Linked DNA regions of Homo sapiens: regions 2, 3 and 4 are each linked to region 1. Evidence: fine-mapped expression QTL. A gene starts in region 1. Each other region holds a variant in brackets. All regions are shown on one strand. Distances are between the middles of the regions. Region 1 holds the start of IL4R (interleukin 4 receptor). Region 2 overlaps NSMCE1-DT (NSMCE1 divergent transcript). Region 3 overlaps IL4R (interleukin 4 receptor). Region 4 overlaps IL4R (interleukin 4 receptor).

What was found.
Region 2: its variant is fine-mapped to the expression of IL4R in whole blood (TOPMed, PIP above 0.99).
Region 3: its variant is fine-mapped to the expression of IL4R in whole blood (TOPMed, PIP above 0.99).
Region 4: its variant is fine-mapped to the expression of IL4R in whole blood (TOPMed, PIP above 0.99).

The regions. Positions count from the first base shown.
Region 1 is chr16:27,308,909-27,317,117 of GRCh38, reverse strand. IL4R (interleukin 4 receptor) reads right to left here and starts at 3,144. Exons shown (of 11, transcript NM_000418.4): 1 at 3,098-3,144. RefSeq lists silencers at 2,404-2,453, 2,894-3,103, 3,124-3,423 and enhancers at 3,201-3,931, 4,754-5,953.
Region 2 is chr16:27,284,853-27,293,061 of GRCh38, reverse strand. It overlaps NSMCE1-DT (NSMCE1 divergent transcript), which reads right to left. Exons shown (of 5, transcript NR_037184.1): 3 at 6,318-6,400; 4 at 4,109-4,262; 5 at 2,594-2,817. Among named protein-coding and RNA genes, the nearest start is that of NSMCE1, 20 kb to the right of the region's middle. The variant C/T (reference allele first, on the strand shown) is at 5,051.
Region 3 is chr16:27,354,196-27,362,195 of GRCh38, reverse strand. IL4R (interleukin 4 receptor) reads right to left here. Exons shown (of 11, transcript NM_000418.4): 8 at 6,289-6,388; 9 at 3,202-3,280; 10 at 1,381-1,430. Among named protein-coding and RNA genes, the nearest start is that of IL21R, 44 kb to the left of the region's middle. The variant T/C (reference allele first, on the strand shown) is at 3,063.
Region 4 is chr16:27,337,452-27,345,451 of GRCh38, reverse strand. It overlaps IL4R (interleukin 4 receptor), which reads right to left. Exons shown (of 11, transcript NM_000418.4): 3 at 5,179-5,266; 4 at 3,193-3,331; 5 at 432-583. The coding sequence starts at 5,248. Among named protein-coding and RNA genes, the nearest start is that of IL4R, 27 kb to the right of the region's middle. The variant C/T (reference allele first, on the strand shown) is at 3,543.

The DNA.
Region 1 (8,209 bases):
AGCCTAGGCAACATAGCAAGATCCTGTCTCTAAAAATATAAAAACAATTAGCCAGCCGTGGTGGCACACACCTGTAGTCCCAGCTACTCAGGAGGCTGAGGTGGAAGGATTACTTGAACCCAGGTATTGGATGCTACAGTGAGCTATGATTGTGCCACTGTGCTCCAGCCTGGGAAATAGAGAGAGACCATGGCTCTAAAAAAAAAAAAAAGGTATTCATTTAACAAATACATAGTTTGTACTACATACCAGGTACTGTTTTGTATGCTTGACATATATTAACTCATTTAGTCATCACTACAATGGCATAGTCACTATAATCTCATAAATGCAGAAACTGAGGCTCTGGGAAGTCAGTTACACAGTAAGCAGCAAAGCCAGCATTTGCACTGGGTGATCTGGCTCAAGTCCATACTGTCACTCCCCAGCTATACGTTTTGACAGGTAACAACAGACATATACATTGATTGTGGACCCACTGGGTGTTGGACATTGTGTGAAGTAGCTTATAAAACATGTCATCAACCCTCAAGAAAGTTCACTTTTACAAATGTGAGGAAGAACAGTACTTAGGCGGCTTCTGTCCTGGCCTCACTCCCAGGTACCAGTGAGGGCAGTCGAGAGGTGGGGCATCTAATCCCAAACGCTCTCCTCCATCGTCCCAGATGGGGTGGGTGGAAGAGGGCAGGGAGATGGGGGAGGTAGAAAAGGTTCTCTCTTCTCATGTATTTATGTATTTGTTTATTTTGAGACAGAGTCTCGCTCTGTCACCCAGGCTACAGTGCAGTGGCACAATCATAGTTCACTGCAGCCTTGACCACCTGGGCTCAAGCCATCCTCCCACCTCAGCCTCCCAAATAGCTGGGGCTAGAGGCACCTGCTACCACGCCTGGCTAAGTTTTTAAATTTTTTTTGTAGGAACAGGATCTCACTATGTTGCCCAGGCTGGTCTCAAACTCCTGGGTTCAAGCGATCCTCTCTCAGCCTCCCAAAGTGCTGGGATTACAGGTGTGAGTCACTGCGCCCAGCTTGTCACTTCTTTGACAATTCATTTCAGCTCCTTTTTGAACTGGGAGCATTAGAAAACTGAACACCCCCACCCTTGCCCTGGGCATTTTGCAACCGGGATTGTATTGTATTAAACATATCAGTCATTGAGTCACTTCCTAGCATTTGGAAACCCTTAGGTTATCTCGGACCTGCCGGTAACTGCATGTGTTGTAAATGGGGTGAGTGACTGCAGGTTTTCCTCCCTGCTGCCTCCCCAGCGTCTCCCTCCAGATTCAGATCCAGAGGCCCAGGGTGGGGCCCAGGAATCTGCATTGTTGCTTTTACAACTCAAGCCAAGGTGAATACACTGGCCCAAGTTCCTTGGCATGGCATTCAAGGCTTTCCACAATGCAGCCCAGCCCAACTTTCCATCCATCTCTGGCTTCTGCTTACTCCCTAGGTTCTGTACACAGTGCCCTTTCACACTTCCCAGCCTCCGCCCACTCTGTGCCTCCCTTTACCTCCCATCCTCTACCTGCCAGACTCCCCTGCTCTACTCACAAGGCTAGCTCAGGGTCCCTGGGTGCTGGGAAGCCTGGCCCAGTGACCTTTGAAGAGCTGATCCCCTCTGGCTTGTGGTCCTGCAGCCGCTGGTGCATCCGCACCCTCCCAGCCCTCACGTCTGTCTTCCTGCAGAGGGGGTGCTCCTTGAGGCAAGCACCAGTGCCCAGAACACCACCCAGGGCCTCGCAGGAGCTGAATGAGTGCTAGTGAGTGAATGAGTGGCTTAGCAGGTCACCTCCCATTCATGGGCTGGGCTAGCCGAGTTCTAAGAAACCCCTGCAGGACCCTGGAATGCCCTAATGTGCAGGACACCCTGGCCAAACCTACACCTGAGCCTGTTTCCCCATTGGACTTTGGGATTTTGATAAAGGCACTGAGGTCCCAGCAAATGCCTTGGGCTCCTCATAGGCTACTGGGGGCAGGGAAGTGCAGTGGGTCATGCCTCCCAGAGGGCTGGGGAAGGGGAGAGACTAGAACTGGAGCAGGGTTAGCGCTGGCCTGGGGGCATTCCTTGAACCCCAGAAGCAGACAAACTAGTGGTCCCCTATCTTGCTTAAGTCTAAGAAATCCAGATTTTGTTTAAAAAAAAAATCAGGGCTCAGTGGCTCACACCTGTCATCCCAGCATTTTGGGAGGCCGAGGTGGGAGGATCACTTGAGGCCAGCCTGGACAACATAGTGAGACACCATCTTTATAAAATAAATTTTTAAAAATAAAATAAAGATCAGATTCCTGGGTTTACTGAATCTGAATCTCAGGGCAAGGACCTGGGAATCTGCATTTTAAGCAAATCTCCCGGAGATTCTGGTTATTGTGGGGGCTCCTCAAACGTGATTGAGAGATGGAGAGCAGCTGGCTCTGGCGTGGGATTGCCTGGGCTCTAGTCCTGCTGCCCCACGGACTCCCAAGTGGGCGGCACCTTAGGGCAAGTTACTAAAGCGGCTGGGGTCTTGGTGACCTCATCTGTACAATGTCCATGACGCACAGCACCGGCCACAGAGAAGTTAGTGGGAGGTTTCACTTGGCATCCTTTCAGTAAAACAAGTCCCAGTCAATGATCGCGATTATTGGGTCCATCTGATATTCGGAGGCGGAGACCGCCCCGATTCACTGACCTACTACTCAAATTTACAGTTCTCAGAACTTTCCCCACCCTTTCTCTCTCCGAAGTCCTCACTGACTTCCTGAGCGCAGGGCTGGGCGCCACTGCCCGGAGAAGAGGGGCTGCGTGGCCTCCGACAGCCTAACCCCAAGCCCCCCACCCCCGCAGGCCGTCCCGGCGGAGGTCTCACTGCCAGCACCGGCTTTGGGGAGCGCTGGGTGTCCACGTACCCCGGGCCTCGCGCCTCCGCTGCCGTTCGGCGGCAAGGACGGAACCGGGCGCTGCTCCGCGCGCACCGAGAGTCGCGGGCTCGGGCCCCGCTCGGAGTCGGGGTGGTCCCCGTGGTCCCCGCCGGCGGCCGAGCCCTTCCCGAACGCCCTCAGCCGGCGTGCCCGGGCGATACCTTCGCAACCCGATCCGCGCGCGGGCCCCGGATCCTACCTGCGCGCCCCTGCTCCATTCGCCGTCCGGGCGCCCAAGCGGGAAGTGGGGGACCCCTGGGTGGCCCTTCCCTGGCCCGCGCCGCGCGGGGCTTTCCTGGGCGCGGAGACCCAGCCCGCCCCGGCTTCCTGCTCCCCGCCCCGGCGCCCGGCAGATTTGCATGCGCCGCCCCGCCCGGCGCGCCCGGCCCGGGTCCCGGCCACCTCGCGCCCCTGTCGCTGTCCCCGCCGCCGCCGCCGGACAGTCCGAGCCGCCGTCCTCTCCTGGGGGCGACCCCAGCACCTCGCTGGGTGTCTTGCCGCGCGCTTCCTCCCACGCCGTAGCCCGAGGTCACGCCCAGCGGAGAACTCTGCAGTGGATCCCCTTGGTCTCGGAATAAAACGCCCACGCCGACCAGGCCTCCAGGACCTGCTCCTGCCTGGCCTCCGCGGCCTCTTTTGCGCCGGGGCAGTTGCGTTTGGTGGGGGAGGGCTGGGCGACTGGAATCCTCCTCCCCTTCCTAACAGCCCGGCTTCCAAGTGAGAGTGGTTGCACATTCTTCAATAAATGTTTACCCAACTCCTACTCCAGCCACATTTGGATAGTAAAACAGCCCTTCAATCAGTAACTAGTACAATCTGTCGGGCACTGCAAATGTTAACTCGTTCAATCCTGGCAACTACCCTATAAGGGAGTGATACTATCACCGGTTTTACAAATCAGGAAACTGAGGCACAGAGTCCTTAAGAAATTCAAAATGGGTTGGGCAAAGTGGCTCATGCCTGTAATCCCAGCACTTTGGGAAGCTGAGGCGGGAGGATCACTTGAACCCCATAGTTCGAGACCAGCCTGGGCAACCCTGTTAGCGAGACCCCTATCTACAAAAATTGACATTTATAAAATTTTAAAAAAGAAAAGAAAGAAACTCAGAATCACTCTGCAGGTAAGCAGGAGCAGGGGTGGAGCTGGGATTCGAACACAGGCCCCATAGACCATTAACGTCTGGACACCATAAGAACCCGGATGCAGCCAGATGACTGGGGGGAAAACACTCAACAAAGTATTTCAGGTCAGGAGGGCCCAAGAAGAAAGTAGGGACCTCTTAGACCAGTGGGGCAGGTGGTCTGGAAGAGGCTTTTTGAGTAGAGGCCATTTGAGCTGAGACTCTGAAGAGCCTATGGGGGAAGACTTGTGTAGGGAGAGGGAAGAGCTAGTGCAAAGGCCCTGTGGGAACCAGCTCAGCCTGCAGGAGGAATTGCTGAAGGCCGGCATGGCTGTGGAGCCCTGAGTGAGGAAAGAGCGGAGACAGGGGAGGTGGGAGATATTTGGACTCACACTGGGCAGTGCTGAGAACCCAGAGAGTAATTTGACCCCCTGCTGCCCTCAAGGAGCTCTCAGTTTGAGGGTGGAAGCCAAGGACTGCCCAATGGGATCAAGTGCTGTGGTGGAGGGTGAGGGTTGGCTTCCCAGGGCAGGGGCCACTGCACGTCAATCATTCTTTTTTTTTTTTTGAAGATGGGGTCTCATTCCATTGCCTAGGCTGGAGTGCAGTGGGTGATCTCAGCTCACTGCAACCTCCACTTCCTGAGTTCAAGCAATTCTCCTGCCTCAGCCTCCTGAGTAGCTGGAATTACAAGCGTGCACCACCACGTCCGGCTCATTTTTGTATTTTTAGTAGACATGAGGTTTCACTATGTTGGCCAGGCTGGTATCAAACTCCTGACCTCAGGTGATCTGCCTGCCTCTGCCTCCCGAAGTGCTGGGATTACAGGTGTGAGCCACCACGCCTGGCCCATATGTCAATCATTCTTTCATGTACTTGGTCTGTCTTGGTCCTACTGTGTGTCTAACCTTGTGACAAGCGCTGATGACGCAGACCTGAAGACATGAAACAGACACAATCCCTGCCCTCTGAGACCTTACAACCAAGTGAGCAAGACAGCCACCAACCCACCCCCGGAAGTGACAGTAAAGATAAGTCAGTTCCCTGGGGTCAGGGATGGCTTCCTGGAGGAGGTGACCTCTGACCAGTGCCTGAATCAATGCAGAAAAACATGCAGGTGGAAGGGACAGCATGAGCAAATACCTGGAGGTGGCGTGGGAGTGTGGAAAAACTCCCATCCTTCGGCATCTGTTTGTGGATGCCTCCATATGCCAAGTCGTGAGCTGGGGGCTAGGGAGAGCAAGAAATAGATCCAGCCCCTGCTTCCTAGCCCTGAGGACCTGGTTGGGGCACTGACAAGTGAGCAGACGTAAGCAATTGAAGTGAACAGATGTAAGCAATTGAGTGTAATAAACCCCGTACTGGGGGCAGCCCAGGCAGACGCTAAGAGGACTAGGGAGAGAAGGCCACAGGAAGGGCTTTCCTGGAAGCTTGGGTTTCAGGAGGAATAGGAATCCTCTGGATTAGGTGTGACTTCCACTCCCGTCCACACTCATACTCCCTCACACTCATTACTCACACATCCGCACACCCACACGGTTGATGCTTCATCCCAGGCAGTTCAGCCCTGCAAGCTGCCTTTGTCCTGTCTGTGTTTCTGAGTTTGTGCCCCATGTCATCGGGAGACGACAGCAAAAGTCTACCTTTGAAGTCCTTTGGGAATGTATGGCTTGGGCTATATCCCCTCCTGGACTCCCAAACTGGGCTCCCATCCTGTTTTCCCAGTCAAGTCATCCTTCGTCGGTTTCCTCGCTTGCCTCTAGACTGCCGGCATTGGCATACCAACTCTGCTACGTATTGACTATGTGACTTTGGGCAAAGTAGATCATCCTCCCTGTGCTTCAGTTTCCCCATCTGTAAAATGGGGATAATAATAGACCCACCTCATAGGGCTATGAAATGGTGAAATGGCAAGGTACGTATCGCAGTGCCTAGAATAGTGCCTGGCGTGGATTAGGCATTCAAAATGTCAATTGCTGTTCTTATCAGGATGAAAATGAGAAAGAAGCAAAGTCGAAGCCTGTTGCCTTGGTCTGTTGCTTGGTTGTGAAATGGAGATGAACGTGGCATTGAGAAGACAGGCAAAGAAAGCACAGCTGTGGTCAGAGGCTAAGACATTCAGGAAATCTGGGGGAAGAGACTTCGGGAATTCTTTGTACTCTTCTCCCAACTTTCCCGCCAGTCTGAAATTATGTCAAATTACAAAGTTAAAGAAAACAGGGCATTGTTCTCGGGTGCAAGAGAGATAATAAATGTCTTCTTGCATACAGTCCCACTGTTCAAGTTCCTGCCCAAGATGCCCAGACTTTATCTGTGACTGCTCCGTCAGTCCTGGGAGCAGGTCCAAAGGCACCAAGATAGTAAAACCTCTGTTCCCCCATCTAGGGGTTCCCAAGTCTTGCCTCAGTATAAGCTCAATCCTCATTATATCCTAACACGCTTACTTGTTTCCAAGCCTTTCGGTCTTTAAAACTAATAGAGTTTATTTTTTAGAACCATTGTAGATTATGGAAAAATTGAGCCGATAGTACTGAGAGTTCCCATACATCCCTCTCCCCCATGCAAAATTTCCTCTTTTATCAACATCTTGCATTAGTGTGTAGTGCCTTCCTTATAATGCTGATACATTATTATAAACTAAAGTCCATAGCATACATTGTTTCACTGTTTCTCGGGGTTTTGTTTTGTTTTGTTTTGTTTTGTGTTTGTTTGCTTGTTTGGAAACAAGGTCTCACTCTGTTGCCCAGGCTGGAGCAGCCTGGAACTCCTGGACTCAGGGGATCCTCCTGCTTCTGCCTTCTGAGTAGCTTGGGCTACAAGAACATGCCACCACACTAGGCTTTTTTTTTTTTATACTTTTAGAGACAGTCTTGCTACATTGCCCAAGCTGGTCTCAGACTCCTAAGCTGAAGTTATCCTTCCATCTCAGCCTCCTAAAGTGCTGGGATTACAAGCATGAGCCACTGTGCCTAACCTCTGCAGCACAGTTCTGAGTCTTTTTTTTTTCTTTGAGACAGAGTCTTGTTCTGTCACCCAGGCTGGGGTACAGTGGCGTGATCTCAACTCACTGCAACCTGTGCCTCCCAGGTTCAAGCGATTCTCACTCCTCAGCCTTCCAAGTAGCTGGGACTACAGGTGCACGCCTGGCTAATTTTTGTATTTTTAGTAGAGACGGAGTTTCCCCATACTGGCCAAGCTGGTTTTGAACTCCTGACCTCAAGTGATCCACCAGCCTCGGCCTCCCAAAGTGTTGGGATTACAGGCATGAGCCAATGCACCCAGCCAAGTTCTGGGTCTTAACAATGTATAATGCCATGGATCCACACATGTAGCAACAAAAAGAATAGTTTCCCAGCCTGGGCAACATAGCAAGACCCGGTCTCTACCAAAAAACACAAACAAACAACAACAACAAAAAACAGGCCAGGCATGGTGGTGCACTGTAGTCCCAGCTACTCAGAGGCTGAGGCAGGAGGATCCCTTGAGCCCAGGAGTTCGAGGCTGCAGTGAACTATGATCATGCCACTGCACTCCAGCCTGGGCAACAGAATGAGACCCTGTCTCTAAAAAAAAAAAGAAAAAAATAAAGAATAGTTTTACTTCCCTAAAAATCCCCAATTCTCTACCTATTCTTCCTGGATTCTGGAAACCACTGATTTTTTTACTGTCTCCATAGTTTTGCCTTTTTCAGAATGTCACGTAATTGAAATCAGAAAGTATGTAGTCTCTTAATACTGACTTCTTTTACTTAGCAATATGCTTTTCAGGTTCCTCAATGTCTTTTCCAGGCTTCACACCTCATTTCTTTTGTGGCTGAATAGTGCCCTATTGTATGGATGTACCACAGTTTATCCATTCTACCTATTGAAAGACATCTTTGTTGCTTCCAATTTTTGGCAATTATGAATAAAGCTGCTATCAACACTCATGTGCAAGTTTTTGGGTGGACATAAGCTTGCAACACAATTGAGTAAATACCAAGGAGCACAATTGCTGGATCATATGGTAAAAGTAAGAAAGTTTGGCAATAAACTGCCAGTGTCTTCGAAGCTAGCTGTAACATTTTGCCTTTCTATCAACAAGTGAGAGTTTCCATTGCTCTGTATTCTTGTCAGCTTTTGATATTGTCAGTTTGAGGATTTTAGCCACTCTAGTAAGTGTATAGTGGTATCTCATCATTGTTTGCAATT
Region 2 (8,209 bases), 24 kb after region 1:
TATTTAATATGATCACACCACTGCACTCCAGCCTGGGCAATAGAGCAAGATTCCGTCACACACACATACACACACACACACAAGAATCCCAAGTTCTGCAACAAGAAGTCAGCTTGGGGAGACAGCAGAGGACAGTCAACCTTCTGGAAGTCACCAGTACGGATGAAAGTCTCAGGGACCCCCTCAACAGTTAGGATTAGACCAGACCCTGGATTTCCACTCAGCTCTCTGGTAGGGAGGGTTCCCCATAATGACAGAGATTAACTTTCTCACCAGCCTTGTCTCTGGAAACACAGCGCTGGGCTTAACTTCATGTATTAGTAAAATCGGGAGGCGTTTCCTGCATCCAAGACAATTGTTGTCAGGGAAAAAGGTATCCCTATTACATCCGATTTACGTATTGGAGTTACAGGTAATTTCAACTTATAAAGGGGTTCATGAATAGGAAAATGTCCTGGTACTTAAAAGTGCAAGTTTGGCCCTGCACGGTGGCTCACGACCGTAATCCCAGCACTTTGGGAGGCCAGGGCAGGAGGATCACTTGAGGTCAGGAATTCGAGACCAGCCTGGCCAACATGGTAAAACCCTGATTCTACTAAAAATACAAAATTAGCCAGGCGTGGTGATGTGCGCCTGTAGTCCCAGCTACTCAGGAGGCTGAGGCAGGAGAATCACTTGAGCCCGGAAGGCAGAGGTTGCAGTGAGCCGAGATCATGCCACTGCATTCCAACTTGGGTGACAGAAAGAGACTCCATCTAAAAAATAAATAAATAAAATAAAAGTGCGAGTTTGGACAACTCTCATTCAGACCCATTTCAGTCTTTTTAAGAGCTAGTCTTCCCTACCCAAAGTGTTGGAGCACAAGAGAAAGCCTCTGGGTCTTCTCTACCTGCCTTATCTATGGGCCTGTGTGCTCAATATCAGAACGCTCACAGCTCCAGAATGTCTTTCATACTTCTTTGCCTTGTGTAGAACTTTTTCCTTTTTTGTCCACCTGGCGAACTCCTATTTATCCTTCAGTACCCTGCTGACACTGCCCCTCATCTGGGCATGAAAGTGTACAGGAGCCTTCTTGGATTCCTTCTCCTATGATAGACACAGTGTTATCTCTTTCTGCATTCCCACTGATCTGCACATGCAGCCCCAAGCTCAGACTGGCTTTCTCTCTGGATGTACGACACGCCATAGGAATTTGTTGTTTCAAATACAATTAAGTCTGGTGCCAAGGCCTCAAGCCCCAGAGTACAATAAATTGCTCTCAGTGGTTGTCTGGATTCTCTCTGTGCCTACAGAGAACCAAAGGGGGAAACAGAGGATAGGGGATGGGGTGTCCTACACAGCACAGACACTTAGAGAGGGCCCTCTGTCTCCTATCTGCAGCAGGCAACACAGTGCAGTATTTTCCAATTCCATCTGGTCCTGGAAGGTGGGTGTCCTCGCTACTCCTTCCCAGGTTGGGCACAGGCACCTGGCAGTGGCTGGGGGGGTGCAACCTCCCTTATAGCGTCATGCAGTTACTCCTGCTAGGGTCCTGGTGCCTCTCTGGGCACTTTGAGGCAACACAGCATTGTCACACCCTCCAAAATGCCCCCACCCCCATCATCCCAGTTTGGGAGATGCTTCCACAACTGAGGCCCCAGCTTTGGCTCATGCACCTCAGGCAACTTCTTCTGTTCGCTTCCTCCCTGGGAGGTTTCACTGGAAACACAAGATTGGCCTGGCAGTCCTAGGAGAGGGGCCAAGGGATGCTGCGGCCAGACACTTTCTTGCTAACACCCTATTTCTCCTAGATCAGCACTTACCTCACTCGTGATATTTCAGTCATTTATTTTCTGGCCTGGGCCTTCCTCTGAACTGTGAATCTTTTGATGCCAAGGAATGTCTCACCGACCTTGGTCTCCAAAAGGCCAAGTGTGGGCTTTCTAACTGGGGCTCTGCGGGCTGGGGGCAAGTTTTTTCTTTTTTGCTGGGAGGGGCAGGGGTGGAGGCAAATTTTTAAAGTCTCTCTGAGCCCATTTTCTTGCCTATAAAATGAGGACTACAATAATACGGATCTCGTTAGTATTTTTGGGATGAACTAAGCCAATGCATGTTAACCCTTTAGAACAATGTCTAACATGTATTAATAGCATAATTCATGTTAGCTGTCATTATTACTTTTTATTTCCATCACTGTTACTTGTAGTGGATGTTTGGTTGCCTACCAAGTAGTCATTCCAACTCCTTTTTTCCACTATAGAGACTGAAAATGCAAGGTACTCACCTCCCCAGGCTCCTTACAGCTAGGGGGGGTGGATGACCTAATCTTGGGCAATGGAGCTTGAATGAAGGTGTGCAAGGAGGCTTCTGGGAAAGATTTTCCTCTCTGATAAAAAGAGAGAGAGAGAAAGAGATTTTTGGACATTGTCTTGGAGGCAGGAGATACTTGGAGCTGTGACAGCCATCTTGCAACCATGAGGACAGAGCCAAGGATAAAAGCCAACATGCTGAAGATGTCAGAGCAGGGGCCTTTATAAGATCATTGAGTTTCTGCCCCAGCCCTGGAAACTCCTACCTTGGAACACTTTGCTAAATTCGATCTGAAATGCCTTTATTAGGAAAGCCATTTTTAATTGGGTACACTGGGATTAGTAGCTGAAAGTATTCGGAAATTTACAGTGGGTAACTGTTGAAAGAAAGTAGCCGGGTCAGGATGGAAATCCTGAACTCCCAGACTCAGATGAGAACAATAGCTGGCTGCCGACTTAGGCCATGGATGGGTGATGCTTCTTGGTCTACTAATAGGTGCTTGGCCTCATGGGCAGTTCCGCAGTCTGTCTGTGGAAGAGAGTGAGTACATGAAAAAAAATACAGCAAAAAGGAAGAGAAAGAAGACAGGGAGAGAGGAATCATTCACAAGTGAATGACCCCAAATCCTCAGGCTTCATTTCTGCTGGCACAACCTTGTTCATTTGCTCTGGGACATCCCATCATCAAATTGTAACATGGTTTCAATCCACTGTGGGATGGCAGAGAAACTACGGCGTATCATCTAACCTGGTTTCATCAGTATTTCTAACTTAGTTTTTGGCAGGTTATTCATTCTCTTGTGTTGGAGACACTGCCTTTCTGTGTTGCTGAGAAAAGGGGGGATGGGGCTATGCTTCTCTTATTTCTGGTTAATTTTGTGGCTAGAAAAAATTTCGTGGGAAAGACTAATGCACAACATATTTTTACCACATCAACTACCGGTCCCATCATGATGCAGGATGTTGCAGGAATCACTGATGTGCACCTTGTACAGGTTGATGTAATGCTTACTTCTTGGTTTGCAGGTCAAAAACAAGCTAGAAGTGAGGAGTGGTATCAATATACATTTTAAGGCCGAGTGCAATGACTCACGCCTGTAATCTCAACACTTTGGGAGGCTGAGGCAGGCAGATTATTTGAGGTCAGGAGTTCGAGACTAGCCTGGCCAACATGGTGAAACCCCGTCTCTACTAAAAGTACAAAAATTATCCAGGCATTGGTGGCGGGTGCCTAGTCCCAACTACTCAGGAGGCTGAGGCATGAAAATCACTTGAACCCAGGAGGCGGATGTTGTAGTGAGCTGAGATGGCACCATTGCACTCCTGCCTGGGTGCCAGAGTGAGACCCCATCTCAAAAAAAAAAAAAAAAAAAAAAAAAAATTTTAAGGATATGATCACTCTCCCAGAGGCAAGAAGTATCATTTCTCGACCCCAATGAGTGCTCTCTTTCCTCATGTCATCACATTTCTTTATATACGACTGTAGTTCATCTCTGGTACTGATCCTCCCCTTCCAGTATCCTTCTCTTTTGGGCCACTCTACTCAAACCATGCTTTCTGGGGTCAGCTATGACAGTGTCACCAAACACAAAGCCTTTCTTTTCCCAGTTCTCATGCAATCTTTTTCTCTCTGCAGCTGTTCATTCTTCATGAAATGCTCTCTTCTGTTAATTTCCAAGATTCCATACCTACCCTCCTGGTTTCTCCTGACCTCTCTAATCACCTCCTCTCACTTCTCATCCTGCCTTCTAAATGTAATCATTCACATCCTCTCCTTTTTCCTCTAGCATTCTTCTGGTTCTGCTCATTTATAAACTTACTTTTTCCCTTCTTGGGTACATGACCACCATCAAAGCTTCCACAATACATAAGTATATATATTCAGTGAATGTTTCCCCGGATCTATTCTGGCCCTGTCCAATCCGATTTCCCAGATGGAACCTCTGTGAGCATTGGGTGTGCATTCTTCCAGACCTGGTACAAGCAGACACATCATTCCATAGTGTGATGATTTTGTTTTGGTTTTATTTTGTTTTGTAGAGACGTGGTCTCCCTATGTTGCCCAGGTTATTCTTGACCTCCTGGGCTCAAGCAATCCTCCCGCCTTGGCCTCCCAATGTGCTGGGATTACAGCCATGAGCCACTGCACCCAGCCCATAGCATGGCATTGACTACAGTTCTGCGTTGGTCATTTAAAGTCTCCACATTTAGCCCTGTCCTTTCTCCCATGCCCTAGTATTTTATTTATTTATTTATTTATTTATTTATTTATTTATTTATCTATGAGACAGGGTGGTCTCACTCTGTCACCTAGGCTGGAGTGCAGTTGTGCGACCTCGGATCACTGAAACCTCCACCTCCAGGTTTCAAGCGATTCTTCTGCCTCAGCCTCCCAAGTAGCTGGGATTACAGGCACCTGCCACAACGCCCAGCTAATTTTTGTATTTTTAGTAGAGATGGGGTTTTGCCATGTTGGCCAGGCTAGTCTCGAACTCCTGACCTCATGTGATCCATCTGCTTCGGCCTCCCAAAGTGCTGGGATTCCAGGCGTGAGCCCCCCGACCTGGCCCATGCCCTCGTGTTTCATGATCCACACCTTGAGCATGTTCTCTCACACCTCTTGCCCTCAGAATGCCTAGGGCAAAGTCATTGTCTCTCGCGAGCTAACTTCTGTGCTTGGACGGTGTCACCATCCAATTAAGCAAGCTGGAAATGATGTTGTCATTGTTGACTTCCCTCTCTGTCTCTCTTTCCCATTCTCG[C/T]TTGTGAAAGACAGTCACAGCAGCCATGGGCTGTGCACTCTGCTTCTTTTTTTATTTCCCAGCTTTTAGGTTTTGGGGGTACCTGTTCAGGCTTGTCACATGGGTAAATGGTGCGTCGCTGAGGTTTGGGGTACAAATGACCCCATCACCCAGGTACTGAGCATAGTACCCAATAGGAAGCGTATCAACTCTTGCCCCCTCCTACCATCCTCCCTCTAGAAGTCCCTCGTGTCTATCGTTCCCATGTTAATGACCATGCATGTTCAATGTTTAGCTCCCACTTATAAGCGAGAACATGCAGTATTTGGTTTTCTGTCCCTGTGTTAATTCACTGAGGATAACAGTCTCCAGCTGCAACCATGTTGCTTCAAAGGACATGATCTCATTCTTTTTTATGGCTGCATAGTATTCCACGCAGTACCCTCCACTTCTGTGTTCATTTTCACATCTGGCTTATTTCCCACTCCTTGCTGCTTCTGCCCTGGTCCAGCCCCACCCTCCTCTCACCTGAAGTAAAGCTATATCCTCCAAGCTGCTTTCCCTGTTTTTTGTTGCTTGTGACATCCTCTGTATGTCGCCTACTGTGAGGCGAAAGCAACTCCATTTTGGATGCAGATCCACCATGTTGACTTAAGATTCACCACAGTTGCAGGAATGCCTCTAAGATTTCTACTTACTGCAAAGCCTGCCCTTAGGTCAAAACAACCTTGATGTTATTGTAAACACATGCTAATCATAAATCCTGCCCTTAGGCAATTTCCCTATGGTATATAAGCCCTGGTCTTGGGGCTGGGAGGTAGCAGCACAGGGGACTACTATTTCTCAACCATTGGATACGTGGCTTCTCTTCACAAGTCCCAGTTAAATGCTTCTTTCTAGGAAGCCACGGCTCCAGCCTATAATCCCAACACTTTGGGGGACTATGGTTGGAGGATCACTTGAACCCAGGGCTTTGAGGCCAACATGGACAACATAGTGAGGCCGTTTCTACAAAACATTAAAAAAAAATTAGCCAGGTGTGGTGTGTGACTTGTAGTCCCAGCTACTCGGGAGGCTGAAGTGGGAGGACTGCTTGAGCCCAGGAGGTTAAAACTGTAGTGAGTTCTGATCACATCACTTCACTCTAGCCTGGGTGACAGAGTAAGCCCCTGTCTCTAAAAACAACAATGACAACAACAACAAAAATTTGTCTCTGAAAAACTGGGTTTGTCAGCCTCTTTCTTCAACCTCTCAGCTTCCTCGGCCTTTGGGGTAGGTTTGTACTGACCTCCCACTGTGTATCACTGGCCAGTTATCGTCGCACTTCTTCTTCCCTCCTGATTAATTCAGGCTGCAATGGCCCACACATGCCTGGAGAATGAATCAGGGTTGACTTAGGCCAGAAATAACAATCCCACTTCCCTTTCACGGATTCTGACTTGCCCAGGCTTCCTTGCAGTAAGAGGTGCTGATGTGATTCAGTTTTTGCCAACAAGATCCACAGGGGAAATCTGGGAAGAGGCCCATGAAGAGAAAGACCTCCTGCCCTACCTCTTTCCTGGCACCATCATTTTCATCTGTGGCACTGAACACCTGTAAGGCCTAGCTCCAGACTTACCTTTCCTCCAACATGACCCACTTATGTTGCCAGTCACTTCTTACCTACCTTATGCTGGAGCTGGGGGTAGGGGCTTGGGAATTCAGGTCAGTTACATCATGCATCATAGTTGGTCTCCAAAGATGGCCCCAAATGAAGCCACCTCCCAGTGTTCGTGTTCTTATGCAGCCCTCTCCACTCTGAATCTGCACTGGTCCTCTGAAATATGTTAACTCACAGAATAAAAAGATAATGATGCTGTGCTAGTCTGGGCCCAAGCCTGAGGAAGAACAAGATATTCTGATGTTATCCTCTCCGGAGCCCTGAGCCAGCACACAAGAAACCCAACTGCCCTGAGACTGCCACGTTTTGAGGAAATGTAAGCTGACCACAAGGAGAGGCCACGTGGAGGAGAACTGAGACTCTCAGCCAACATGGAGGACCAGGCTCCAATCTCATGATGTAGTATGAGCCATTCCAACCAGCCTCCACCCATTTGCGTCCCCTGAGTTGACACCACGGGAAGGAAAGATAAGCTGGGTAAGTTGGGGTGAAAATGTAACTGCAAATCATATCCTCTGTTCAATCTCAATAGCCTTCTCATTTTTTTTTTTTTTTTTGAGACAGGGTTTCACTCTGTTGCCCAGGCTGGAGTGTGGTGGCAAAATCATGACACACTGCAGCCACAGCCTCCCAAGGCTCAGGTAATCCTCCCACGTCAGCCTCCTGAGTAGCTAGGACTATAGGCATGCACCACCATGCCTGGCTAATTTTTAAATTTTTTGTAGATACAGGATCTCCCTGTGTTGCACAGGCTGGTCTCAAACTCCTGGGCTCAAGGGATCCTCCCGCCTTGGCCTTCCACAGTGCTGGGACTACAGGTGTGAGCCGCTGCACCCAGCCAGCCTTCTCTTTCTTGCAAATGATTGCACTCTTCTGCAGCTTCACTTTGCTTACACGGGCCTCTCAGCCTGCATTACCTTTCCTCTGCATCAGTTATCCCATCCTCTAAAGCTAATCTGGAAAGCCCCCACTTCTATAAACCTTCCAGATGATGTCAACTCTGAAGAGTGGGTATTTGGACCAGCTCTGCAGCAAGTGTGTACTTTTGCTCACTATGCACCTACCCTCCCTCTCTTGTTGTAACAGCACCCCAGTTTTGTTTGGATGAACTCCCCCCACCACCTTTTAGTGCAACTCTGTCAATCAAGTTGTCCATTAACTTGTGTTTCAAGTGGGACGTAGAACCCGCCTGGGCCAATCAGTTGTTTCTCTCTCTCTCTCTCTCTCTCTCTGTCTCTCTCTCTCTCTCTCTGCTCTTACTCTTTCTCCAGTGCAAATCCTGAGAGGGTGACAGATAGCTGAAAATGGATGACAGCCTGACCAGACCTCCATAAGCTGCTGCTGGCAAGGTCTGCCAAGTTCTCTGGTCCACATTCAGTCCCAAATCTGAGGCTCCAGCATTTTCATTTGAGTCTACGAGCCACCCTGGAGCAGAGACAGTAATGCTCGCCAATGATTCCATTGTTCCCTTTCATTTCCCAGTGTTCTGGCATTTAGGGAAGATCTTGTGACTAGTTCTC
Region 3 (8,000 bases), 45 kb before region 1:
ATTCTTCAAAGCCCAGCCTGAAATCACCATGTCCTGATGGCTGTCTACTTCAGACATGCCTTCTAACGTTATAATCAGTAATTGATCAGTCTATGTTGCTAGAATGAGAAATCCCTGAGGGTAGGGTCTGTGTCTTTGGGATTTCGGGAACCCAGCACATGTCCTGGGCACCAAATACAAGCTCAGATCTGTTGAGTAAGAAAAAGTCTTTATGGATGATGATAATTAAAAGCAACACCATTATCCCAAGCCATGACCAATTAGAAAGGATATGGAAGCCGGGTGCGGTGGCTCACGCCTGTAATCCCAGCACTTTAGGAGGCTGAGGAGGGAGGATCGCTTGAGCTCAGGAGTTTGAGAACAGCCTGGGCAACAGAGCCCAAGCCGTCTCAAACATCTCTACAAGAATTAAAAAAAAGGAAAATTAGCTGGGCATGTTGGTGTATGACTGTAGTCCCAGCTACTTAGAAGGCTGAGGCTAGAGAATCACTTGAGCCCACGAGTTTGAGGCTGCAGTGAATCACTGCACTCCAGCCTGAGGGACACAGCAAGACCCTGCGTCCAAAAAAAAAAAAAAAAAAAAAAGATGCGGGATCCTAGGGTTGAAGCAGGGTCCTGGACCCCCTTTAGTTTCTGGAGTATGGAAAGGTCCAGCAGGCCCCAGGGAAGAAGCTAAGGAGGCCACAGTGGCGGGGCAACACAGCGAGAGCTTGTCTTTACAAAAACTTTTTTTGGTATTATTTTTTTTGAGACAAGAGTCTCACTCTGTCGCCCAGGCTGGAGTGCAGTGGCACAATCTGCGCTCACTGCAACCTCTGCCTCCCGGGTTCAAGTGATTCTCATGCCTCAGCCTCCTGAGTAGCTGGAATTACAGGCAAAAACCTTTTAAAATAGCCAGGCGTGGTAATGCACATCTGTAGTATCAGCTACTCGGGAGGCTAAGATGGGAGGATCACTTGAGCTCAGGAGTTTGAAGGTGCAGTGAGCTATGATCGCACCACTGCACACCAGCCTGGGCCACAGAGTGAGATCCTGTATATTAAAAAAAAGGAGGGGAGTGTTCAGGATAGTGGCTATTTGCCGACAAGTATACAATTAGGTCAAGATTTTAACAACAGGCACGGCTGCTCTGGTTGTTAACTATAACAGCACTCCCAAGGGGTATCACCATGTACCTGACACACCAGTGAAACTCAGGGGGCTTGGCCAGCAGTCCACGTTTCCAGAACACCCCTCCTCCTGCCGTCCCTTGAAGGCTAATGTCACAGGGCAATTACCGAATGCAGGGAAGAGAAGGCAGACATGGAGCTAGGGGCTTGCCTCTCCAATTCTATCACCTTCCCAATGCATGCAGGCTGTGACCTAAGTTCAGATACATACGGGCACTTGGCTGGTTCCTGGCCTCGGGACCGCTTCTCCCACTGTGACCCCTAAAATACAGAGACAGCCAATGAAAGAGCAGAGTGGCCTTGCAGCCCGGCCTGGAGTACGGCAATGCTCAGGAAGGGGTACAAGCCTCGACATCACACAGATCAGAAGTCCAACAGGTCACTTACGCTTTCTGAGCTTCAGATTCCTGGGAATTAATTACATTGTCCTAATATTTACAGGGACTGTGGTCGATGGCAAAAGTGGCCACAGAGGAGTGCTCTGAATCTCCTCCCATCCCTTGAATCTACACTGGCCCTGGGACTTGCTTGGGCCCATAGAATGTGATGGAAGTGATATCATGCCAGTGCTGCGCCTAGGCCTCAAGAAGCCTTGGGACTTCCCACCCTTGAAAACTGAGCCACTCTGTAAACAAGCCTGGGCCGGCCTGCTGGAGAGTGAGAGGCACATGGCTCAGGCACCTGCACTGTCCCAGGTAAAAGTCAGCCAACTAGGCTGGGTGCAGTGGCTCACGCCTGTAATCCCAGCACTTTGGGAGGCTGAAGTGGGTGGATCACCTGATATTAGGAGTTCCAGACCAGCCTGACCGACATGAAGAAACCCCATCTCTATTAAAAATACAAAATTAGCCTGGCGTGGTGGCACATGCCTGTAATCCCAGCTACTTGGGAGGCTGAGGCAAGAAAATTGCTTGAACCCAGGAAGCAGAGGTTGCAGTGAGCCAAGATCACGCCATTGCACTCCTGGGCAATAAGAGCAAAACTCCGTCTCAGAAAAAGAAAAAAAAAAAAAAAGCCAACTGTCAGACACGGAGGGAGGCTACGGGGACGGGTCAGCTCAATTCAGATCTGCCCAGCCCAGCCCAGCCCAGCCTCCCCCGCCACCCTCACTGCTGAGCCCAGCCCCAAATGCCAGCCTGCAGAAGCATAAGCTAAATAAAGTTGTTGTAACCCTCTACATTTCGGGGTCGTTTGTTACACAGCAAACACTAACTGATACATAAATGGCACTTGGTATTTGCAAGAGGCTGGAATATGCACTTTATATGTATTGTCTCAATAAATTCCAATATCTGTCCTACCAGGTAAACACTGTTATAACCCACAAGAGGAAACTGAGGCTCAGAGAATTAAGCAACTTGCTCAAGTCCACACTGCCAGTGAGTGGCAGAGTCAGGATTCAAAGCCAACACCACTAGATTCCAGAGTCCCTGGAAAAGCAAGGACCCTCAGACCTTCTCTTCTAGACAGGACCTATAATCCCCCTTTCTCCTACCTAGAGAACTCTCATCTTGCTCAGGCAAACCCCACCCACTCACCCACAGGACCATCGCCTTGGGGAAGCTGACTCCACCCCTGGCTTAGGGGTGGGATACATTTCAGGCCAATGAGAACCCGGAAGGGATTTGCTAGTGCTTCGGGGGCAGTTTCCTATGCTTAAGAAGAAGACACAGAAAGCCTGTCACCCTCTCCTTCCTCCACTCCTTCTGGCCTCTAGCCCTGGTACTGGCACCTCCCCAGGGAATGACACAGTGATGATGACCCAAGGGTCATTCTCCCAAGGGGAGGGAAAAAAACAGGAAACCAACCCCAGAGAAGCCCACCCCAGGCTGGGATTGCCAAGGGGAAGGGCGGGAAAGCCTCTGGTCTGCTAATGACCTCATTCGGCTTCTG[T/C]CTCTGTCTCCCCTGCAACCCTCCTGACTGTCTATTTGCCATTCCAGAAGCCAGTGAAGGTCCTTAACAGCCCAGGTGTTCTGAACCACACTTCTTCATGTACACAGTCCCACATGTCCTCATCCACGCCTACTCCTACCTGAGCATCCTGGATTATTATAGCCACGAGGCGGCTGCGGGCTGGGTTGGGAATCTGATCCCACCATTCTTTCTTAATCCTGAAAAACAAAAGGAAAAGGTGTTGATCTCTGAATTATTGACAGGTGAACGCTCCTCCCATAAAAGTGGTCGTTATCACCAATACTTATTTGGCATCAGAGATCAGGCTGATTAGTTTCTGGAGGTCAAACCACTGACTCATCATTCTAACCTGGTGACATGGATTCTATTGCTAACCCTATTCTACAGATGAGGAGAGTGAGGCCCAAGGAGGTGGAGTGACAGCTGGTAGGTGGCAGAGCCAGGTTCACACTCCCGCATTCTGTTACCCAGCACAGAGTTCCTGAGGAGGCCACCTATGTCCTCAGTGGGAATGAGACCCCAGGGGATTAGGAAAGACTCAAACTGCAGAGAGAGGATTCTAGGTTCCCCTCAACAATCCCTTTTTCAGAGCAGCTGAGGGCAAATGACCAGGGAATGGCCTGGGATGGCCTGGGAAGCTGGGGGACCTACGGAGAAACACAACCCTTCTCTCTTCCTGGCCTGCCTGGGGCCATGGTGCATCATCACTGGGAGGTAAGGTCCTCAGACCGCTTCTGAATTAGCCTCTGCCCATGGTTTCAATAAATAAACACATATTTATTGAGCACCTTCTATGTTTGACTCACTGTGCCTGGCCCTGAGGCCACAACAGTGAACGAGACAAAGATGCCTGCCTTGGTGAAACTGACCTTCAAGAGGGAAAGATGGATGATAAATGGAGACAGAAATGCTTATATGAGGCCAGGCATGGTGGCTCACGCCTGTAATCCCAGCACTTTGGGAGGCCAAGGCAGGTGTATCACCTGAGGTCAGAAGTTCGAGACCAGCCTGGCCAATATGGTGAAACACCGTCTCTACTAAAAATGCAAAACTTAGCCAGGCATGGTGGCAGGCGCCTGCAATCCCAGCTACTCAGGAGGCTGAGGCAGGAGAATCGCTTGAACCCGGAAGGCGGAGGTTGCAGTGAGCTGAGATCGCGCCACTGCACTCCAGCCTGGGGGACAACATGAGACTCCATCTCAAAGAAAAAAAAAAAAAAACGAAAGAAATGCTTATATGAGGTCATTCATTCATGGTAATAAGTGCCATGAATAAAGATAAAGGGGTAGAAGTTCAAGATCAGCCTGGGCTACATAAGTGACAGCCAGTCTCTACAAAATGTAAGAAAATTGGCCAGGCACAGTGGCTCATGCCTGTACCCAGCACCTTGGGAGAACGAGGTGGGTGGATCACTTGAGGTCAGGAGTTCAAGACCATCCTGGCCAACATGGTGAAACCCCATCTCTACTAAAAATACAAAAATTAGCTGGGTGTCGTGGCACACGCCTGTAATCCCAGCTAGTCGGGAGGCTAAGGCAGGAGAATCGCTTGAACCCGGGAGGCAGAGATTGCAGTGAGTCGAGATCGCACCACTGCACTCCAGCTTGGTTTTTGAGACTCCACTCTGTCCCAAAAAATAAAATTAAATTAAATTAAAATAAGAAAATTAGCCAGGTGTGGTGGCAAGCGCCTGTTGTCCCAGCTGCTCTGGAAGTTGAAATGGGAGGATCTCTTTAGCCCAGGAATTGGAGGCTGCAGTGAGCCGTAACCGCGCCACTGCACTTCAGCCTGGCTAACAGAGTGAGACCCTGTCTAAAAAACAGAACAAAACAAGAAACCAAAGACAAAGAACAGCAAAGAGGCTGGCATGCTGGGATATAGTGATGGGGAGTGGGAAGAGGTACAGGTGATGGGGAAACTGAGGCTCAGAGCAAGGCGATCAGTCCAAGGTTGCTCGGAGGCATCAGTGACAAGATATGGAGGGGAATTTGCATTCCCTGCCTACCTAGTGTGTGCTGGGCCAAGAGTGGGCACTTTCATCAATCATGTTAATAATCCTTAGCCACCTCTAATCCTGACTTAGTGAGGTTGAGCTTGCTAGTCCCATTTCAGAGATGGGAGGACTGAGGCTCTGAGACACCATGATTCCAAGGGCTGGCAAGAGCTCTCTGGAAACGAGGCTCCTTCCACCACCTCCCAGCCACTCGCCACTCATCTCCTCCCTCAGCCTTTACTGTGATTTGGCCTCTTCTGGCTGATGAAATATGTTCTCACCATCACTGTCACTCTGCAAAGCAGGAACCCCAGGCTCAGGGGTTTCAGCAACTTGTCGGCCGCCAGCTACCAAGCTCCAAGGCCAGGATTCAAACCCAGGTCTCCTGACTCCATCAGGGCAATCGTCGCAAATTCCTCTGGCTCCTACCACATGCCCCCAGATGCCCCCAGTTGCCCAGGCACCCAGCGTTGTAAGGGGATGTGGGATGACTCCATCTTGCTTATCCCTGGCCAGCTCATTCTCCCCAGTCAGGGCCCCCCTCAAATTTTCCCTCCTTGGAGAGCCTTATCCTGGTCCCCCTTGCAAAAAGCACCCCAGAAGATCTCTGGCCTGCACCCTGGTCTAGTGCATTCAGAGAGTGGGTCACTATGGAAAACCACCTGTTTGTGATTGATATGTATTTTCAGTCTCCCCAGTAGGATGCCGGTTTTAGAAATGTGGAGTCCTGGTTGGGTGCAGTGGCTCACACCTGTAATCCCAGCACTTTGGGAGGCTGAGGCAGGCAGATCATGAGGTCAGGAGTTCGAGACCAGCCTGACCAACATGGTGAAACCCCATCTCTACCAAAAATACAAAAAATTAGCCGGGCATAGTGGCATGCGCCTGTAATCCCAGCTACTCTGGAGGCTGAGGCAGAAGAATTGCTTGAACCCGGGAGGCGGAGGTTACTGTTAGGCAAGATTGTGCCACTATACTCCAGCCTGGGTGACAGAGTGAGACTCCGTCTCAAAAAAAAAAAAAAAAAAAAAAAAAGAAAAAAGTGGGGTCCTTGTCGATATGTTCTCAGCTCTACTCTCAAGGTGTGTAGTAGCTGCTCAGTAAATGCGTATTATTGACTGAGAGGACTGCAAAGGGGCAGACTAGAGGGGCAAGTCCCTGCCACCCTGCACTCCAGAGGGACTGCTCGGCAGCACTGGGCCCAGGACTCACTTGGTGATGCTGACATAGCACAACAGGCAGACGGCCAGGATGACAATGCAGGAAACGCTGACGCCCAGCAGGAGGTGCTGCTCGAAGGGCTCCCTGTAGGCTGGAAGTGGGAGGGGAAGCCATGAGCTGAGGTCAGCCATGGTACAGCCTGGGCTCCACTTCCCAGGACTGGAGACCCAGGGTCAGGACCCTCGTCCGAGACCCTCCACGATCTGACCGCCGACCACCCCTCCACCTCATCTCCCCACCACTCTCCCTCTTGCACATTGAGTCCTCGTCACACCGGCCACCTCATTGCCCCCTGCTCCTCCAAAGCTCAGTGCCACCTCCAGATCTTAAACTTGCTGCTCTTTCTTTCCGGAAGCACAGAAGTCAAATGCACCAACTTAGGAGCCGGATGGCTCCTTGCTGTGTGACACAGGACAAGTCCCTTATCTTCTCTGTGCCTCCGCATCCTCATCTGTACTATGGGGTTAATGACAGAATTGATCGTGCAGGGCTGTTGCGAGGATGACATGATGAATCAATAGATAATGCACTCAGAACAGAGTGGCCTGTCCACATCATTAGCTGCCATCATCTCAACACGGTTGACTTCTCCTTGTTCACTTTCATCGTCACATTCTCCAAAAAGTTTTCCCCGACACCCTCCCTACCGTTGCCCCCTGCCCATCGCTCCATCCCCTTCCTCTGCTTTTATTTTCTTCCCAGCACTCACTGTCATCCAGATCCATGTGATTTCTTTCTTTCTTTATATGTTTGCTTTTTGTCTCTCCCTCCAGAATGTCAGCTCCACAAGAGTGGGGATTTCTATCTGCTTTGTTCATCGCCGATTCCCCAGTGTCTAGCACAGGGCTAGCCATGTAGGAGGAACTCAGCAAATATTTGCTGAAATAATGAATGAGGGTCCCATACATTGTTATCTGTTTCATACAAGCTAGTTCCCTTCCCCATGCCAATGGCAGATGAGAATCAATTCAAAACTTTCCCAAGCACCTGGTTCTGTGCTGGGTTCTGGAGATACAGCCATGGAGACCCTGCCTATGGAGCTCACAGCCCAGGGCAGGAGACACGTGGCTCAACTGATATCCACAGTGCAGGATGAGCAATGCTGAGAGGGCTGTGCGGTGGCAGGGTCAGGGTACTGCCAGCTGCCACTGCACCTACCACGTTGAAGAATCTTCTTTCATTGAGTTTTTACGACAGCCCTTACTCCTCCCATTATACAGATGGGGAAACTGAAGCAGTCTTCTTCACTCAACAGCTTTTTCCTCTCTCCCTTGTCAGGGAGCCATGCCCACCCTAAGGCTTGAGCCAATCACGATTATCCTGTTCCTTTTTCCAGGCATTTGAGTTCCCAGTCTTCCTTGCAATGAGCAAGTAATAACAGTAACCATGTAACATGTAACAGTCTTGGCCAATGAGATGTAAGGGGAATTTTGCTAGGGAAGCTTCTAGAAAGATGTTTGCTTCCTGATTAAAAAAGAGATGCACAAGGTACACTCTCTCGTAGCAGCCTTTCCTTTCCTTCCTGCTTTATGTAAGACAGTGTGCAACGGCCAACCTGAGGGCATGGGTGGCAAGTCTAAGGATACAATGCCACCATGTGAAGGATGGCAGAAGGGAAGACAGCAGAAGGGAAGAGATATCACTTGGCTGCTGTACAAAACCCAGTAGGTCCATTTGTAAGACTTCATTTTATGTGAGATAAT
Region 4 (8,000 bases), 28 kb before region 1:
AGGGGGATTCCTGCAGGGACTCCGGGTACCAGAAGAAGGTCAGCCTTCCACGGTCAAGACCATCCAAAGCCGCAGCAGCTGACCAGTGGACACAGAATGGAAGGAATGTTCCCAGTTCGGTTTTCAATCAGCAGCAGGCATGCCTTCCAGCAAGCACACCTCATCTCAATACGCCTTCCTGGGCACTTAAGTTCAGGGGTGGAAACAGCTGGGCTGAAGGGGGCTTGGTGGTCTACTGCGACCAGCTCCGTTTCAAAGGTGGGAGGACTGAGGCCCAGGCAGGGGCAGGAATCCCATCAGATTTGGGAAAATACAGGCGGCTTCCTCCTGCTGTTGCTATGACCCCACCTCCTCCCCTGCCCACCCCACCCTCAGCCCAGGCAGCTGTGGGAACACACCCAGCCACCCCTGCCGCACTCCGCCCTGCTCACCATGCTCGCTGGGCTTGAAGGAGCCCTTCCACAGCAGCTGCTGCCCAGCCCACAGGTCCAGTGTATAGTTATCCGCACTGACCACGTCATCCATGAGCAGGTGGCACACGCACCCCGCGCCTCCGTTGTTCTCAGGGATACACGTGTGGGCTCTGCAGACACAGGGGCTGGGTTAGGCTGGTCACCTGTAGGCTGGCTGGGCCCCACAGCTGTGTCCGGGACATGCCTCCAGGAACCGCATCAGACTCTTCCAGCTTCCCGATCACGGATGTGAGGACAGATCTGGGGGCTTGGGAGCGGCCAGGGTGTGCTGGGGCAGCCGACTAGGGTTGCCTCTCTTGCTGGCCACAGCCTCTTACCACATGCACCAAGGATGCTCCTCACACCTGCCTAGCTGCCGGCCCTGGTCCTGGGACTTAGCTTGTTCCTGAAAGCCCATGAAAGGGAAGAACCGGTGGCACTAATTAATTTAGAACAACATAAGCTCTGCATCGCACAGTTTGGCCATCGTAAGATAATTCCAATGTTCCACCTTAACAGCCAACCCACATCTCACGGGCTAGGCCAGGGGTCTGCAAACTTTTTCTGTAACAGGCCAGATAGTTAATATTTTGGACTTCAAAGGCCACACAATTTCCTTTTTTTTTTTTTTTTTTGGTTATTTGTATAAATTTAGGGGGTACGAGTTTTTTGTTTTTTGTTTTTGTTTTTTTTTCCTGAGACAAAGTCTCACTGTCACCCAGGCTAGAGTACAGTGATGTGATCTCGGCTCACTGCAACCTCCACCTCCTGGGCTCAAGCAATTCTCCCGCCTCAGCCTCCCTAGTAGCTGGGATTACAGGTGTGCGCCACTACACCCAGTTAATTGTTGTATTTTTAGTAGAGATGGAGCTTCACCATGTTGGCCAGGCCGGTCTCGAACTCCTGACCTCAAGTGATCTGCCCACCTCGGCCTCCCAAAGGGCTGGGATTACAGCCGCGAGCCACCACAGTGCCCGGCCTTACAAGTGCAATTTTGATGGCAAGCCTCAGATCTGTTCTCACTGGATATGCTGCCTAGTGGTGAAGTCTGGGGTTCTGGTGGGTCCGTCACCCAAATGGTGTACACTATGCCCATTAAGTAACTTCTCTTCCTTCACCCCTCTCCCACCCTCCCAAGTCTTCAATGTCTGTTATTCCATGGTACATGGAATAATGCCCATGTGTACACATTATTTAACTCTTACTTATAAGTGAGAACATGCAGTATTTGACTTTCCATTTCTGAATTATTTCAATTAAGATAAAGGAGGAGGCCGGGCTCAGTGGCTCATGCCTGTAATCCCAGCACTTTGGGACGCTGAGGCGGGTGGATCACCTGAGTTCAGGAGTTCGAGACCAGCTTGGCCAACATGATGAAAACCGGTCTCTACTAAAAATACGAAAAATTAGCCGGGTGTGGTGGCAGGCACCATTAATCCCAACTACTCGGGAGGCTGAGACAGGAGAATCGCTTGAACCCGGGAGGCAGAGGTTGCAGTGAGCCGAGATTGTGCCACTGCACTCCAGCCTGGGCAACAAGAGCGAAACTCTGTCTCAAAGAAAACAAACAAACAAACAAACAAACAAAAAACATAAAGGAGGGCCATGCAGTTTCTGTTACAACTACAGCAGCCAGTGTGTTCCAATAAAACTTTATTTACAAAAACAAGCAGTGGGCCGGATTTGGCTCACGGGCCATAGTTTGCCAATCCCTGGACTAAGCCAATGGAAACAAAGCACAGCCCATCTACCTTAGAATAATCATGGAATACCACCTTTACTGGTGAACGCTGCATGCTGGTGTGCCGTATATCCCCAGTCTGCCCCGTAACTGTGTGTCTTGTGTACGTGATTATGTCCTGGGCACCAGTGTAACGAAGCATCCTGTGCACCATGGAGTAGCCCAGGGAACCACCTGACTCCTATGCCATGTGTCCTGGTCCATCCACCATCACAGAGGACTCCACTCTCAACACCGTACTCCTCAATCAAGGGTCTAGTCCAGTGGTTCTCAAAGTGTGGTCTGGGCCCACCAGGTAAAACTCTTTTCATCATAATACAGGGACGTTATTTGCCTTTTCACTCTCTCTCACTGGCGTACAGTGGAATTTTCTAGAGGCTACATGACCTGTGATCATGTAATTGATCTGAAGATTTGTTGAATGCGGGCTTGCATGTTGTTGGGACTTAAAATTTCTCCATTTTGGGCCGGATACAGCGGCTCACGCTTGTAATCCCAGCACTTTGGGAGGCGGAGGCAGGAGGATCACTGGAGCCCAGGAGTTTGAGAGCAGCCTGGGCAACACAGTGAGACCTCCATTTCAGTAAGAAAAAAAATTTTTAATTGTTTTAATTTTTTAAAAATTACACCATTTCTTCATTGCAAGTTCTAATTAGGTAAACATAGAATGATGTGTTACCTACACCAAAGCCCTTTGGGTCCTCACTCATTTTTAAGTGTGAAAAAGGGTCCTGAGACCAAAAAGTGTGAGAACTGCTGGTCTAGTCCAGTATTCCAGCCGTATCCATGTGCCACGTGGACCAACACTCCCACCATGCGCTCCACTGTATCTTACATAACATGTCCCTGGAGATGGGACCTCCCCTCTAACACCATATAAACAGCAGCAAACCATACTCAGCATCCTGCACTCCAGCGCACCACCTGGACCCAGCTCACTCTTGGGGCAAACCCTTTGGGCACAACCTCCCCAAACCTCCAGCTCCAGCGCAGGCTTACTCGGAGAGCAGAAAAACCAGCTGGTACAACAGGCGGAGCTCGGTGCTGCAATTGGTGGGACCATTCATCTTCCACTCGCAAGTAGAGATGCTCATGTAGTCGGAGACGCAGGTGGGCTCCTGCAAGACCTTCATGTTCCCTGGGGAGACACAGGAGCAGCCTGAGCGGCCCAGGAACTCAATGCGTGAGGGGGACTTGCACCCAAACAGGACCAAGGGGAATAGCACAAAAGCACAGTGCAGGCAAAGTTGAGGGCCAGCGCCCACAGAGCTGGGGCCAGGACCAGGGCTGCTGGAGCTTCCCAGCTAGTGTCGGGATGACTGTGGAAGCTGAAGAAATACCCATGGGTG[C/T]GGGGGCCATTAGACAAGAACGAACCAAGTGCACCTTTATCTCACACAAACTTGACAACTTGTTCTTGGCCAAATTAAAGGGAAAATATGTAGCAGTTTAAGGAGTGCCATTCCATCACACCAAGCCTCTGCCCTCGAGCTAGGGGAAGTGCCACTTCCCCATTTGCCCACTATCTGCGCCCCTCTTTGTCTCCACCCCTTTCTGCCCTCTCTGTGCTCAGGAGGCTGATACCACAGTCTTCATCACCGGGTACCCTTGGCCTTTAGTTTCCGGTTGGGTTTGGCCAATGGGAGAGAGGAGATGGATGGGCTGGAGGAGACATCGGGGTCCTTCTCCTTTCAGCGCCCTCCTAGCTTGTCAGTGGCCATGGCAGGACTGGAATTGGCAGGATGTACACTGAGTTTGCTAAACCACCTGAGCATGAGACCACTCAGGCGCCTCCATGCTCCCATGCTCAGTGCCACGCCCATCTCAGCTGACAACAACTTGCATAAGGGCTTACCATGTTAAGGAGCTGTCTTAGATAGCAAATAAATATTCCAAGCTTATCTCATGTCCAAAACTAACTCCTGATTCCCGCCCCTCCCCAAAGTACCTTCTCTTCTGGCATCCTTCTGCATTTCAGAAATGACAACCGCGTCCTTCCCAGTAGTTTAGGTCAGAAATCTTGGAGTCATCCTGGCCACTTCTCTTTCTCTGTCTTTCACCTCAATTCCAATCTGTCCTCAAATCTACCTCCCAGAGGGATCCGGAGCCTCTCATCTCCTCCACTCCAGACCTCCCTCCAGACCTCCTGGCTTCCACCCTCTTCCTTTCTCCACACGGCATCCTGAAGAGTCCTTTGGAACATAATGGATGATATGGATCCTCTGCTCAAACACTGCAAGGTCTTTTTTGATTCAGCCACTCTGTCACCTTGCTGACCTTCACTGCTCCCTCCTGCTGCTCACTCTCCTCCACCACATTCCCTCCTGTGCTCAACCCTCCCGCCAGGCTCAGTGCAGGGCCTCTCTGCCAAGAATGAGCCTTCCCCAGACATCTGCACGGTTCCCGCTTCCTCCAAGTCAGCTCAATGAGGCCTTCCCTGACTTCCCTACTTTCAACTGCAATCCCCCCCACTCCACCCAGCTTCCCCAACCCCCTCTTATGCTGTTCTGTGTTCTTTCCCCATCACCTTCTCTTTTTTTTTGACAGGGTCTCACTTTCTCACGCAGGCTGGAGTGGAGTGGCGCGATCACAGTTCACTGCAGCCTTGACCTCCTGAGTTCAAGGGATCCTCCCACCTCGGCCTCCTGAGTAGCTGGGGCTACAGGCGTGCACTGCCACACCTGGCTAATATTTTATTATTTGTAGAGACAAGGTCTCCCTATGTTGCCCAAGCTGACCTCGAACTCCTGGGCTCAAGCGATCCTCCTGCCTCGGCCTCCTGAAGTGCTGGGATTACAGGTGTGAGCCACTGCACCCGGCTCCCATCACTTTCTAACAATCTTTAGAATTTACTGATAATCAGGGCCACTTGTCATTGGCTGTCCCCTCCCACTGCAGTGTAATCTCCATAAGGCCAGGTGACATACTGCAGGACCCTGGCACGCCATTAATAGCCAACAAATGAATGATTGAGAAGTGGTGACTTACCAGAGCTTGCCACCTGCAGCAGGACCAGGCAGCTCACAGGGAACAGGAGCCCAGAGCAAAGCCACCCCATTGGGAGATGCCAAGGCACCTGCAGAGAGAGAGGAAGCAGGTTAGTGCTGACCTGTGCTTCCAGCAGAGCTCATCTTATTCAATATGCAACCCTCCCCTGCCCTGGCCATTTATTTGTTTGTTTGTTTGCTTGTTTGTTTGTTTTTCCGAGACAGAGTCTCGCTCTGTCTCCAAGGCTGGAGTGCAGTGGTGCAATCTCAGCTCACTGCAACCTCCACCTCCCGGGTTCAAGCGATTCTTCTGCCTCAGCCTCCCGAGTAGCTGGGATTACAGGTGCCCACCACCACACCTGGCTAATTTTTGTATTTTTAGTAGAGACGGGGTTTCACCATGTTGGCCAGGCTGGTCTTGAACTTCTGACCTCATGATCTGCCCCTCTGGTCTTCTCGAAGTGCTGGGATTACAGGCCTGAGCCACTGCGGCTGCCCAGCCATGCCCTGGCCATTTGTGTCTCTGCCGACAACAGGTCCTCCACGTTCACAGAGCTCTCTCTATAATCATGAAACAACACCCAGACCCACAAAGTCCAGAGGGTGAGCTACACAACAACTGTCCTGGGAGATGCTTCTGGATGTGGCCTTCCTTGGACAACCCTCTACACATGTTTCTCTGATTATTTCCTGAGGTTTAAATACCTGCTCTGTCACTGACTAGATGTGAACCTTGAGCAAGCTGTGCTTCCATGCCTCAGTTTCCTTATCTATAAAGTGGGACTAAGAATAGCCCCATCTGATTGAGGTGTTGTGGGGATTAAATGAGCTAACACAGACAGAGCCCTCCAACAGTGACCGGAACACTTTAAAGTCTCAAGTAACGTTACAAGTCAGCTTAGTCCATATAGGCTGCTATAACAAAAATACCTTAGAGCAGGTAATTTACAAAGAACAGAAACGTATTGCTCTATTGGGTGCAATGGTGTGCATCTCTAGTCCCAGCTACTCGGGAAGGTGGGGTGGATCACTTGGAGTCCAGGGGTTTGAGACCAGCCTAGGGAATATAGTGAGACCTCATGGTGAATTTTTGAAAAATTGTTTTAAATTTTATTATTCAGGCCAGACACAGTAGCTCACACCTGTATTTCCAGCACTTTGGGGAGCCAAGGTGGGTGGATCACCTGAGGTCAGGAGTTCGAGATCAGCCTGGCCAACATGGAGAAACCCCGTCTGTACTAAAAATACAAAAACTAGCCGAGTGTGGTGGCGGGCACCTGTAATTCCAGCTACTCTGGAGGCTGAGGCAGGAGAATCGCTTGAACTGGGGTAGGCAGAGGTTGCAGTGAGTCGAGATCGCGTCATTGTACTCCAGCCTGGGCGACAAGAGCAAGACTCCATCTCAAAATAAATAAATAATAAATAAATAAATTTTCTAATGCATAGTTCTGGAGACTGGGAAGTCCAAGATCACGACACTAGGAGATCCAGATCTGGTGAGAGCCCATTCCTCACGGACGATGCCATGCTGCTGTGTCTTCATATGACAGAAGGGGCAAACACACTTCCTTCAGCCCGTTCATGAGGGCACTAACCCCATTCATGACCAACCACAGAGCCCTCATGACTTAATCACTTCTCCAAAGGCCCCATCTCTTAATATGACTACAATGGGATGAAGTTTCAACATATGAATTTGGGGGAACACATTCAGCCCATAGCACCAGCTATTATCATTAAGAAAAAAATGTTCAGAAGCCAGGTGTGGTGGCTCACACCTGTAATCCCAGCACTTTGGGAGGCTAAGGAGGGAGGATGGCTTGAGCCCAGGAGTTCAAGACCAGCCTGGGCAACAGAGTGAGACCTTATCTCTACAAAAATTAAACAAAATCAGCCAGGCACGGTGGTGCATGCCTGTAATCCTAGCTACTTGGGAGGTTGAGGTGGGAAGATCGTTTGAGCCTGGGATGTCAAGGCTGCAGTAAGCCAAGACCGTACCACTGCACTCCAGCAAGACCCTGTCATAAAAAAAAAAGAAAAGAAAAGAAAACAGAAAGTTTGGGAGGCTGAGGTGGGCGGATCACGAGGTCAGGAGTTTGAGACCAGCCTGGCCAACATAGTGAAACCCTGTCTCTACTAAAAATACAAAAATTAGCCAAGTGTGGTGGCGCACACCTGTAGTCCCAGCTACACGGGAGGCCGAGGTGGGAGAATTGCTTGAACCCAGGAGGCGGAGGTTGCAGCGAGCCGAGACCATGCCATTGCACTCCAGCCTGGGTGACAGAGTGAGACTCTGTCTCAAAAAAAAAAAAAAAGGAAAAGAAAAAAATGCTAAGAAGCAGAATCTCACGGAGTCAAGTGTGTACTTTTCCCCAGCACTCCTGGTACATAACGTCAAATACCCTCCAAAAAGTGTGTACTGGGGCCGGGCGTGGTGGCTCACATCTGTAATCCCAGCACTTTAGGAGTTCACAACCAGCCTGGCCAACATGGTGAAACCTGTCTCTACCAAAAATACAAAAAAAAATTAGCCGGGCGGTAGTGGCGCGTGCCTGTAGTCCCAGCTACTCAGGAGGCTGAGGCAGGAAAATCGCTTGAGCCTAGGAGGTGGAGGTTGTGGTGAGCCGAGATGGCACCACTGCACTCTAGGCTGGGCGACACAGTGAGACCCTGTTGCAAAAAGAGAAAAAAAAAAAAAAGAAAAAGAAAAAAAGAAAACAGCACGCGCTGGGTTATATTCCCTGCAACATTTCAAGTGCCCATCCTTCACTTCCCGCTTGGGTCTCTCTCCTGGGATCTTATTCAAAAAAGCAGCTCCCAGGC